Linked DNA regions of Homo sapiens. The protein of the gene in region 2 purifies or fractionates together with the protein of the main gene of each other region. This does not show direct contact. Each region holds a gene or a part of one and is shown on either strand. Other genes may lie near its edges.

The links.
Region 1: the proteins of PGCKA1 (region 2) and STK24 purify together in Homo sapiens (affinity purification with mass spectrometry; 3 studies listed by BioGRID and IntAct, with this or other methods). This does not show direct contact.

The regions. Positions count from the first base shown.
Region 1 is NC_000013.11:98,566,817-98,574,109, forward strand, and holds part of STK24 (serine/threonine-protein kinase 24 isoform b precursor), read right to left. Parts: intron 1-7,293. UniProt on the Homo sapiens protein: Serine/threonine-protein kinase that acts on both serine and threonine residues and promotes apoptosis in response to stress stimuli and caspase activation.
Region 2 is NC_000004.12:37,589,822-37,594,200, reverse strand, and holds the end of PGCKA1 (PDCD10 and GCKIII kinases-associated protein 1), read right to left. Parts: intron 4,114-4,379; coding exon 3,201-4,113; 3' UTR 691-3,200; downstream 1-690. UniProt on the Homo sapiens protein: Acts as a tumor suppressor. Acts as a tumor suppressor for colorectal cancer cell proliferation by targeting KEAP1/USP17/ELK1/CDK6 axis.

The DNA.
Region 1 (7,293 bases), on a different chromosome or scaffold from region 2:
CTCTCAAGAAATATTTGGTACCAGGAAACTGCATCCATCACACATACCACAGGAACGCTCCTCAAGCAATACCTTTCTTCATCTGGAGTTCAAGTGGCAGTTTAATAACTTTGAAGTCACCACATTGAACACGCTTCCAAAGTTCGACGAAACTATACCTAAAATAACTGCGGGCTAAGGCTCAGTCCCAAGTTCCAGACTGTTTTTCATTTCTACTCAATGGTTCGTTGCTGTAAAATTCTACCCAAGAAAGTACTCTGTCCTTAAGCAAGAAATCACTTGAAGGCCATACCCCAAAGAAGAGCTTTCGCTGTTTAGATACGCACCCTTCAAGTCCTCCATCCATTAACATGCTATGGATTTATGGCCAGCGCTGTGCAGTGCCCCCAGCGCGCAGACACCACTGACTCTGCAACATGCAATCTGCTAACACATGGCCACTGGGACAGCCACATAACACCCAGGCCCTCTGACGGGCTATTCGGCATCTGTGGCACACGTGTGCCCCAGTCCTGCACCGACCACCACGGAACATACGACCAGACTGATGCCACCTCCGCCCTGCCAAGAAGCACATACTCAATTCTGGACCAGGGGGTTGGAACCCCAAAGCATCATAAACTTAAGCAAGCGTTTCTCCAGAGAGATCCTATGAGGCTCCCGGACATCGTTCTGTGTCCACAGGATCTTGGGACCAAAAAAATGAGAGAAGCAAGAAGAGCAGGTTCTCAGTTCAAGTTGGGGAGGTGGAGGCCACCGACCAGTAGAGAGATGGAAAAATAAGCAGACATGTATACTGCTGTTTATTTACAGGGAGAAAATAAGAGGCACAATCTCATGATGAAGAGAACGGAGGCTCCGAGTTCTTGCCCGCCGCCCTGGCCCAGCAGTCAGTCCTAGCTCTTGGAATTTCCTCACCTGCCTGGCCCTGTCTTTATTCACCTATAAACTGAAGAATAGCAACTTGGAGGTAGAGGGGTCACACAGACAGCAGCATCTAATTGGGTCAATCCTGAAATCCCACTAAAATCATAAATCTAAAAACCACCACATACCTGAAACAGAGAGAAGACAACTGCAATGAAATCTCAGAAGCTGGAAAGTAGGTAGTGGTTTAAAAAAAAAAAGGGGGGGGGTGGGGAGTAGAGGAAGACAACGCTAAACCGGAGGTGCAGAAAACAGAGAACTTTTTTTTTTTTTGGAGGCACAGTCTCGCTCTGTCGCCCAGGCTGGAGTGCAATGGCGCGATCTCGGCTCCCTGCAACTTCCGTCTCCTGGGTTCAAGCAATTCTGCCTCAGCCTGCCAAGTAGCTGGGATTACAGGCGTGTATCATCACGCCTGGCTAATTTTTGTGTTTTTGGTAGAGAAGGGGTTTCACCATGTTGGTCAGGCTGGTCTCGAAATCCTGACCTCAAATGATCCACCCGCTTCGGCCTCCCAAAGTGCTGAGATTACAGGCATGAGCCATCGCGCCGGGCCAGCAGAGAACTAACTTAACTCACAGTGCTGGACCCCCGGCTCTCAGGAACTGACGGCACCAGTCCCTCTGCCGGGGGAATGAGTGAACCAGGCAGAGCCTCAAAGTCAGCCACAGAAGTGGGTAGACAGCCAGACAGCTTGCCCCACATCTCACAGCCAGGCTCCCAAAGTCAAGGAAATGATGAAAATATATTATCTGCAAAGGAAGGAAAAATTGAGGATATATGGACCAGGCTGCAGCAGACACAGCCGGAAGCAGAGGCAGCATACTTAAAAATGGGGAATGAAGGCCGGGGATGGTGGCTCACACCTGTAATCCCACCACTTTGGGAGGCCGAGGCATGTGGATCACCTGAGGTCAGGAGTTCGAGACCTGCCTGCTCCACATGGTGAAACCTCATCTCTACTAAAAAATACAAAAATTAGCCAGGCATGGTGGTGGGCGCCTGTAATCCCAGCTACTCGGGAGGCTGAGGCAGGAGAATCACTGGAACCTGGGGGGGCAGATGTTGCAGTGAATGAAGATCACGCCATTGCACTCCAGCCTGGGTGACAGAGCGAGACTCCATCTCGAAAAACAAAAAAGATAAAAGAATATTTGAGGGCCGATGCAGAAGGTTCACCATCCAAGTAATAAAGTTTCAGAAAGAAAGAACACAGAAAATGGAAGGGGGGAGGGGAATCAAAGAAAAAAGTCAATGAAAAGATCTGAGTCGCTTCACAGAAAAGGCCTAACCAAGTATCTGTCACGAGAAACGAAAACAGCCCCACTCCAAGCCACATCATTGTGAAACTTCAGAACTCAAGGAAAAAGTTCAGATCCCATTAGGTCCAGGAAGAACAGCACAGCCTGCACACACAGAAGCCGGTGCTGGCAGGGCCTCCATCTTCAACAGCAACACTGGAAGCTAAAACACAGTGGAGAAACACCTTTAAAATTCTGGAGGAAATGAATGTCCACCCTGCAATTTTACACCATGCTAAAATATCAACTGAGGGAGAAGAAAAAAAATTTTTGAAAAGCCTGTCTCCCACGCTGCCTATTCACAGAAAATGGCGCACTATATGCCCAACCAACATCATGGCATAAACCAAGAAAGAAAATGACAGCAGAGACAAAAAAAAAAAAACAAAAAAAAACAAAACAGATATTCAACACAAGAGAGCAGCAGAAGGAACCCAGAGGATGAGAGCAAAGGAAGACCAGAGGATGGGGGTGGCACAAGAAGCATAGAAGATACGCAGGTGACGAAAGGCACAGGTGCCACCCGAACTTCCTAAGACAAGGTTGCAACAACTACAGAGTGCTGGGATGAATGAGAAGCATTACCAAAAGAAAAGAAATCTGATCAGTAACTATGGTTGAGTAATAATGGCTGGGCTGCAGATCCGTCTGCAGTCCATTAATGTACACACCGCATTCTGACCTCACTGACATTACAACATCTCTCTGCTGGGGGAGAGCGGGGAGCCCATGTGAGGAAAAGAGGCAAGCGGAAGAGAAGTAAATCCTCATCCGCAGGGTCCAAAGTCTATAGACAATGCCTGAAACCAGGAAAAAAAAAAAAACACAGGCAGAAATTTTTTTTTTTTTTTTTGAGATGGAGTTTCACTCTGTCACCTAGGCTGGAGTGCAGTGGCACCATCTCAGCTCACTGCAACCTCCGCCTCCCAGGTTCAAAGAATTCTCCTGCCTCAGCCTCCCAAGTAGCTGGGAATACATGCGCCCACCACCACGCCCAGCTGTTTTTTTTGTATTTTTAGTAGAGACAGAGTTTCACCATGTTGGCCAGGCTGGTCTTGAACTCCTGACTTCAAGTGATCCACCTGCCTCAGCCTCCCAACGTGCTGGGATTACAGGCGTGAGCCACCGCCCCCGGTCAATTTTTTAATGTTCCTCATAAACTAAGGAGTAACAAAAACAAAAATCAACCAGGAGAGATCAAAGGGGCTGCCCTCGGGGAATAAGAAATGGCGGGAGGTGGAAGCAGCTGCTATCTTTCCCAACCAACCTTACAAAACTACCCATTAGACATTTCTAAATAGAAACTAAACAAAATCCTAAGTAATTACAAATAAAACAAAGGATGTGGACCTGTAACAGTTCTTTCAAACCTTACGGCCTAAAATTCTCTTAAAAAACAGGAAGAGACTTAAAATAATAGGAAGATAAACCCCAGCTACGTACTTGGTAAGCATTAATTTAAAACTTGAAATGTTCCCACAATGTATTCAGATACCAACAGAGCGCAGAACAGAAAAGGTTTCTTTTGCTGACGAAGAACCCTCAAGAAACACAATGGAAGGTCTCTAGAGTCAACAATGTTGTTCCCTGGGTGCGCATAAAGTGACTGGTAACCACCAATTTGGGATGTTTCACAGTTTGTACCAAGCAAAGGCATATCTCAGTTTATTTCCCCTAATTTAAACCTTGCAAACCAGGGAGCCATTTAGGATTAAGAAACTCCATAGTCACCCTCAGGAGGCAGGTTATTTTTCCCAAAGCATTTGGCACTTATATTTTTTATAATTTCCACTGCAAAAACATGAATTATGGGAAATGACTGCTACAAACTACTCCGACGACAGTGGCTGATTCTACGCGATGAGACATGGATAATAGAGTGCAACTTCTATTTCCTGCACTCACACCACCCACAAGATTCCATTAATGATAATCAGCTGAGCTAAGGCATTAAAAGGCACAGAAAGGTGGCTTGGGTGTGGTCCACTTCCTGCAGGTAAGGAGCTTCCACAAGGGCAGCTCTGAATCATCGGGAGTAATCGCCCAAATAAAGAGCTAAGGGGCCCGTTTCTCAGGAGACCATCGGACGCCTGGACTGCGGCTTTAGAGTGTGTGTAACCGCACAAGCACAGCAGAAAGTAGCAGTGACCATCGACAGGCTCCTCCCTTCAGTAACTGCTCACCCTGCATCTTGCACCAGGGTCCTGGAAAAATACTGAACTGAAAATGAAACTCAACCTGCACCACATTAGGCAGCTCAGCTCTACGCATCAGACCGTAGCTCCAAGAAGAGCATCAAAGTCAGAAAGAGGGTGGGAAAGCAATGATGCCAGCCGCCACCTGCCCATAACTGCTCAGCACAGTTAGCAAGCTAGAAAATCTCATCTGACCAATTCCTACTTGAAGGTCACTTGCTTTTATGTGACATGCTATCAAGAATACTCCCAGATCTGAGACTGGACTCCTCCAAAAGTTTGGGTTTTTCTAATTTAAAAAAACCTTGTGACCATCCTCCCCCTCAAAAAAGAACACTTTCAAGCAAAACAAATTCTTACCATTGTTACATTTTGGAACACGGAGTATTCAAAATAGGTTTTTTGTTTTTTTGACACTTACATAGGCAACTAACTAACAAAACAGTAACTAACAGTAACTGAGTACTTATTACTCTTTAGCACTGATCAGCAAAAAGGATCATAAAGCAAGAGGAGTAATGAGATACTATAAAATGTTCACTGAGAGTTCAAGCCACGAAGCTGAGTGAATGCTAAAAAAATCCACTTAGGCTGTCCTACTGACACCTGGGCTCCCCACTCGCATCCCTGGGCTTCCTCTTCCCTGAAGTGCTGCAATGCCTTCTAAAGGGGCACCCAGCACTCCCCACACCTGAGAAAGCAGGAGCCCCAAAGAACAGGAGATCATCTGCTCAAAAATGTGCCATACTTCCGGCTGTCTACAGATGCAAGGCCTCCCCCAGGCCCACAGGCACCCCACTGCCTCTTCAGCTCCAGGACCGATCTAGATCTAGCCCACCAGAAGCTGTGTCACCGCTTTCCAACCATGTGCCTTTGCTCACTGTGTCCTCAGTCACTGCAACCTTCTTAGAGCACATGCCCCAAAGCAGGCAGCCGACCTCTTGAGGACAGGATGGACTGAGGCTCTGAACTCTGCCTCCAACGACTCCGGGCACTATACTCTGCAGGCTCCCCTGTGCAGTCCAATGCTGTCAGTCACCAGAGCACACTCCACAGTTCAGCAAGTCCCCAAGGTGCTCTCCGAACCCACGTCTCGGATGTCCTGACTGTCCACACCCAGTGACACACCAACCTTCCCCCAGGGTGCAGATGGTAACAGGGTAACTGGGCAGGCACCTCCCAAGGAAGGAACGGAAAAGAACCCGTGGAAATGTGACACTAACAAGAAAAAAAAGTACAAGAGCACTTAAGCCACAATTAAATGCAGCTGTCCTGTGTTTGCCTTCATTTCCCAGACTCCCAGAGTGCACAGGCTTCCCTAGGGTGGAGCAGAGCACTTGAGAAAAGCTCCCCATGTTCCCAGACTGGCCATTAGACACCAGTCTCACTATCCTGATGCAAGGGGCATTCTCAGCAAAGGTCTATTTATCCAAGCAGCAAGAAAAACAGAAGGGGAACGAGGGGGACAGGATGATGTTAACAAGACAAACTTCAGGTTTTTAAGCTATTCCTCTAAATTATCTGTATTTTCAAATATGAAACTATGTTAAACTTACAACTTCAAAACATGGTAAATTAACCAGGCCCTGCAATATGCAATACATGTGACGTATATAATTCAGTATTTTTCAAACTGTGGGTCAGGAATCAGTGGGCTGTGAAATCAATCTAGTGTTGCAACCAGCTCCTTTTTTAAATATACCACAACAGCACATCACAAGCACAGGCTGAGCATCCCTGATCCAAAATGCTCCAAAATATGAAACTTTTCAGCGCCAACATGACACTCAAAGGAAATGCTCATTGGGAGCACTTCTGATTTCGGATGTTCAACAAGCATATAATGCAAATATTCCAAAATTCGAAACACTTGTGGTCCCAAGCATTTTGGATGAGGGATACTCAACCCGTAGTAAGGATTAGTACGGTCTCCTGAAACTTGTTTTTGATCCTGATGTAAAATATATTTCTTACATGGGTCACGGTTCAGAAAAGTTGAAAAGTGACTGATAAAATTTTGTAACAGAAATGTGCAAACCAAAATCTCATTTTTAAATCACATTTCTGCAAACTCAAAGCCGATTGGTGTTCCTGCCTCCATCTGAAGCTTTTCTTTTAATCTCAATTGAGTGAAACAACAAATGCTCAATGAAAGACGGAGTACTTATAGCCACAGATCAGCCTGATTTCTTTATGTTTATTCGTCACTATATTCATTCAGTTTCTGATGTCTATTTTTTTCCCCTACTGAAATATAAAACTGGGGTTTAAGAGAAAAAAAGCAAAGGCTTCAGCAACTTTCATTAAACATTTACTTTAAATGGTAACCTCATTCAGATCTACCACTTTCAACCCCTCCCCTAGGACCTGGCACATGAAAGTTCAATAAGGGTTGCTGATTGAATAAATTAAAAAATCAGCCTCCTATTTCTAATTTCTTTAGCCAATCTAACTAGCAATGAGATAAACTTTAATGTTTGCAAAAGTAACCATAAAACAGTAACACTGCATGATGAGTGGGAGTAGGAGGAGTAGTAGTTTCCAATCACAAATTTGCCACATAATATATGATCTCACCTTGGTCAGTTAAGTCTTCCTTGGTCTCCACATCTACAAAATGGTATAATATCATCTACATCTCAAACGGTACCGGTAAGAATCAAGAGGCATAAAAATGATTTGCAAAACATTGAAAAATGGTGTTTATACTAACATGGTTGTTATTTTTCAAGCATCCTTGCCTAGGCCACCTGAATTCACTCTGCTTTATTTTTTTATTTTATTTTTTTTTTTGAGACGGAGTCTGCCTCTGTCGCCCAGGCTGGGGTGCAACGGCACAATCTCAGCTCAACGCAACCTCCGCCTCCCGGGTT
Region 2 (4,379 bases):
GATTTTTTACTTTCATTTCCTTTGGGGGATCCTGGATACTGGAGTAAAGATGAAAGGGGCCAGAATTACTTTTAAAGAACTCTTGAAAGTATTGGCCATCTGTCGACCTTTTCAAAGCAGTTATTCATAAAAGAGAATCTTTAAAACTACAGAGCTGTCAGTTATGGTGAACTCTGCAGCTGTTCTAAGATGTAAAATTATATACATATATAAATGCGAAAGTGTGTGTCTGGGTAAGAGAAAGAGACTTGTCTGCCCTGATACCTTACCCTACCCCTTCTTTGTCTGAATTTCTTCTTTTCGTCCGGTTTGGAGTTATCAATGGGAAGTTGGAGCAGCGGTAGCTGTCCAGTCCTCCTTCCCCCGGACCAAAGGTGGAAGCCCCTTTGGTGTCACACTGAATGTACACACGATCTTCCAATCTTTTGAAACCAGCTGTATCCCAGGCTTTTGGGTTTTGAGACCTCCTGTGGCAGAGACTGTAAACTGACCGCCTCGAAACTCATTGTCCATTTCCCCTTCTTAGTAACTGCATTCTGAGTTTATTTGGCAAAGCCACGCACACCACTAGCAAGACGATTTCCTAGTCTCTCTTGCAGCTAGATGTGGCCAAGTGACCAGATTTTGACCAAAGAGAGTAATGTGGAAGGGATGAATTATACTTCTGTGGGGTCCTTAATAGAGAGTGAGTGGGGTTTTTATTCCTTTATTCTTTTTCCAACATGGAATGCAAATGTAATGACTGAAGCCACAGCAGCCATTATGGACTACAAAGTGATCTTGAGAAGGAAACCAAAATGATTGAAGCAGCATGGGTCATTCATATGCGGGTCATTGATACGTGGGTCATTGATATGTGGGTCATTGATACACGGGCCAGTGATACATTCTCTACCACCCTGGATCACTAACTCCAGACTTCTTTTACATAAGAGGTAAATAAGCCTCTATTTGTATAAAACACTCGTCCCATACAACTGAACATAATCTCAACTGATACACTTAGGAAATCATTGAAGGAATAAGCATTCTGAAATATTAAGTATTTGGTGTACTAAATACAAAAGGAGACATACCTCTAATGCAATTAACAATGCCAAGACTTTATCTTTTTAAGGGCTCTGAGTGACCCTGTATATAGAGGTCACTTGCGATGGCTTGTCATTACAGTACCAAACAAACCCATAGGCTCATTAAGCATTTGTAAGGGTGCCGTCCTTAAAGGTGCTGGAAGGCTCAGAAATCATGTTTTATACTAAATAATTGCCAAAGTCAAATAATGACATTATACATACTTCCCAGTTTTAGAGTTTTCAGTTGTGGGGATGTAAAAATGTTTGTTAAAGGAATTGTTTTCAACTAGTAAAACATCATTTTTGAGTGCCTAGTGTGCCAAGCACTGTGCTAAACACTTACATCATCTCATTTAACCTTTACAAGCACATACAATTATTCTTCTCACTTTACAGATGGGTAAAGGGATACATAACTTGTCCAAGGTCACATGGCAAAGCTGGAAATCAAATGAAGTTCAGTCAGATTTCAATTCTGTGTTACAAAACACCAAACTAAAGCATCTTCCATGTTTATTTTTTTCTAGATAGTTTTGAGCATCCTTAATGCCTTTAAATTCTCCATTGAGTTACGTTAGAATGGTTGTCCTTGTTTCAGTGAATTAGAAGGCTGAAATCCAGAGAGGGCTTGTTCATCTTTGAGGTAAGATCAGGACATTTAGTTATGGCATCAAGTTTGACAGAGAGAAAGCCAAAGCTATGGCTCTGCAAACCAGCTCGGTCCCTTCCTTGAGTATAATTTTGTAGTCTAGCTCTTTTTTTTTTTTTTTTTTTCATAGAGATGGGGTCTCGCTAAATTGCCCAGGTTGGTCTCGAATTCCTGGCCCTGGCAATCCTCTCACCTCAGCCTTCCAAAGTGCTCAGATTACAGACATGAGCCACTGTGCCTAGCTTAGCTCTTTTTTTTTTTTTTTTTTTTGAGATGGAGTCTTGCACTGTCACCCAGGCTGGAGTGCAGTGGCACGATCTCAGCTCACTGCAACCTCCACCTCCCAGGTTCAAGTGATTCTCCTTGCCTCAGCCTCCCAAGTAGCTGGGATTACAGGCGCCCGCCACCGTGCCCGGATAATTTTTTGTATTTTTAGTAGAGACAGGGTTTCACTATGTTGGCCAGGCTGATCTTGAACTCCTGACCTTGTGATCCACCCGCCTCGGCCTCCCAAAGTGCTGGGATTACAGGCATGAGCCACCACGCCCGGCCATCTAGATTAGTTCTTTACATTGAAAGTAACATCCAGGGTCACTGATATTCTGAGAAAATTAGAACCACCTTTGAGTTAAGACTTCTAGAAAGACACATACGTTGTTATATTTTAATTGGAATCAGACATTTAATGGCATAAAAACATTGCATATATGGCTTTGCTGTTCCGAATGTCATGAACTTAAAATCCAAATATGACATAAGCAGTTTTAAGACTTATTTTGGCCAGCCTCCCCAATCCCAAAGGAGATTTAAAAGTAATAATGTAAAAAAGTTAAGGTCAAGGTGTTTTAAAATCAACATCTCAGCTAATGACTAACCCTTTGTTTCCTGGGGACTTCTGCTCTACTGTGAAAACTGCTGAGCTTAACCCGCTGTTGAACAACTGGTTAGTTATTAGTTCCCTGGGTGATTGTCCCTGAAGTTAAGCCATGCTCTGGGGACACATGAGGCACTTTAATTGGGGTAGTTACTTTTTCCAGGTTGGGTACAATGTTTGGCTCTCAAAAGCAAGGTAAACAGTTTACAGTCAAAAGGAATGCTCTGTGATTGTGTGCCTTTGGGATCAAGGGTTGAGATCTTAGAGTATTCTCATAAACATCTGTACCAGGTGCTCAAAGATGTTTGAGGGTTGTCAAGCAAGCTGTTCAACTTCTGCATTTTCTGTGGATATGGGCACAATGACCCACTCAGATTTTTCTCCTAGTGTCCTGAATGACAGCTCATCTACACAGAGTGAAACTCCAGATATGTGACAAGCAGCATGGGACAGATGCTGACAATCAGAACAGATGCTGGATGTAAACAACTGGTAAGGCTGCACTGGTGCATGCTGGCAGAATCACCTGCTATGCATCCAGGGAGCAAATGCATCTGCATGCTCAGCATGACACCAGCTTACCTCCCTGTGCAAATCCCCTCCCCTAATCAGTCTCATCCAAATCTTCTCCTGCAGTAGCAGCTTCTAAAGCTGCAAGGGCCTCCGCCACCGCTGCATCCTCGTCCACAATCTCCCCATCCCCATCTCCATCGGAGCCATGGGTATCCTCCTGCCTGTTTCCTGAGTCAACCACAGGCATGGCATGAACAGGACCCTTCTCATTAAAGCAGATGCTTAGAACTTCTGTTTCCACATCCTCATTCAATGAATCCCAGCTTCTCCTCACAGAGAAGGGCGTATTCAAACCATGCTCCCCCACTGGGGGCTGAATTCCCTCTAGGGATTCATCCTCAGTATGGTTCTTGAAAACACAGTCCTTTTCATTATGATCAACGTTGTCTCCAGCTGGGCCCCAATGCTGAAGGTAATCTGGGGCTGGTATCTGGAAGACATGGTCTTGTACTTCCAAGGCAAAACTTTCTGCCTCAGAAGGAGCTCTGGAGTCTCCATTTCTCATGACTTGGGTCCCTTCTGAGGCCAGCAGCACACAGTCCTGTTTCCTGGTGCCCCCTCCTTCCAGGAAGGGTTGAGTTGGGGGAACAGTATTTGCAGTACTGGCCCAGGAGCCCCTGTCATCCTGGGTGGGGCTGGAATTCCCAGTGGGCTGTGGAGTGGCAGCAGGGCCGATGCCGTTGACACCGCAGGCATGGTGTTCCCCTCCAGCGTCCCCCTGTGGGAGCGGCCCTTGGTGAGGCCAGCAGGGCTCCCATGGATCAGCTGTCCTGCTGCTGCTCTCAGTCTTCTTTGAGCCCTGCCTCTGAGGGTCATTTTTCTGCACCAAGACTTCACTGCTCCATTTGCCTTTTAATTTATCAGTGTCGTCTTCATCTAGCTTGCAGCTGTTGACTTCATTGACATAGCCAGGAGAGGGCACTTGAACTGGATCAAAGAGATAGCTTCAGGAAAGACAATGAAAACCAGTCAGGTCTGCTCCATCATTAATGCTTTTTACCACAGGCCCTGCTTCTTTCTACGATTCCTGCTAATTTAATTTCTGTGATTACTTTTCAACCTAGATAAGTATGTCTAAATCAAATAGATATAGTTGGTATAAAAATGTTTGGTGGCTCACGCCTGTAATCTCAGCAATTTGGGTGGCCAAGGCGGGTGGATCACTTGAGGTCAGGAGTTCGAGACCAGCCTGACCGACATGGTGAAACCC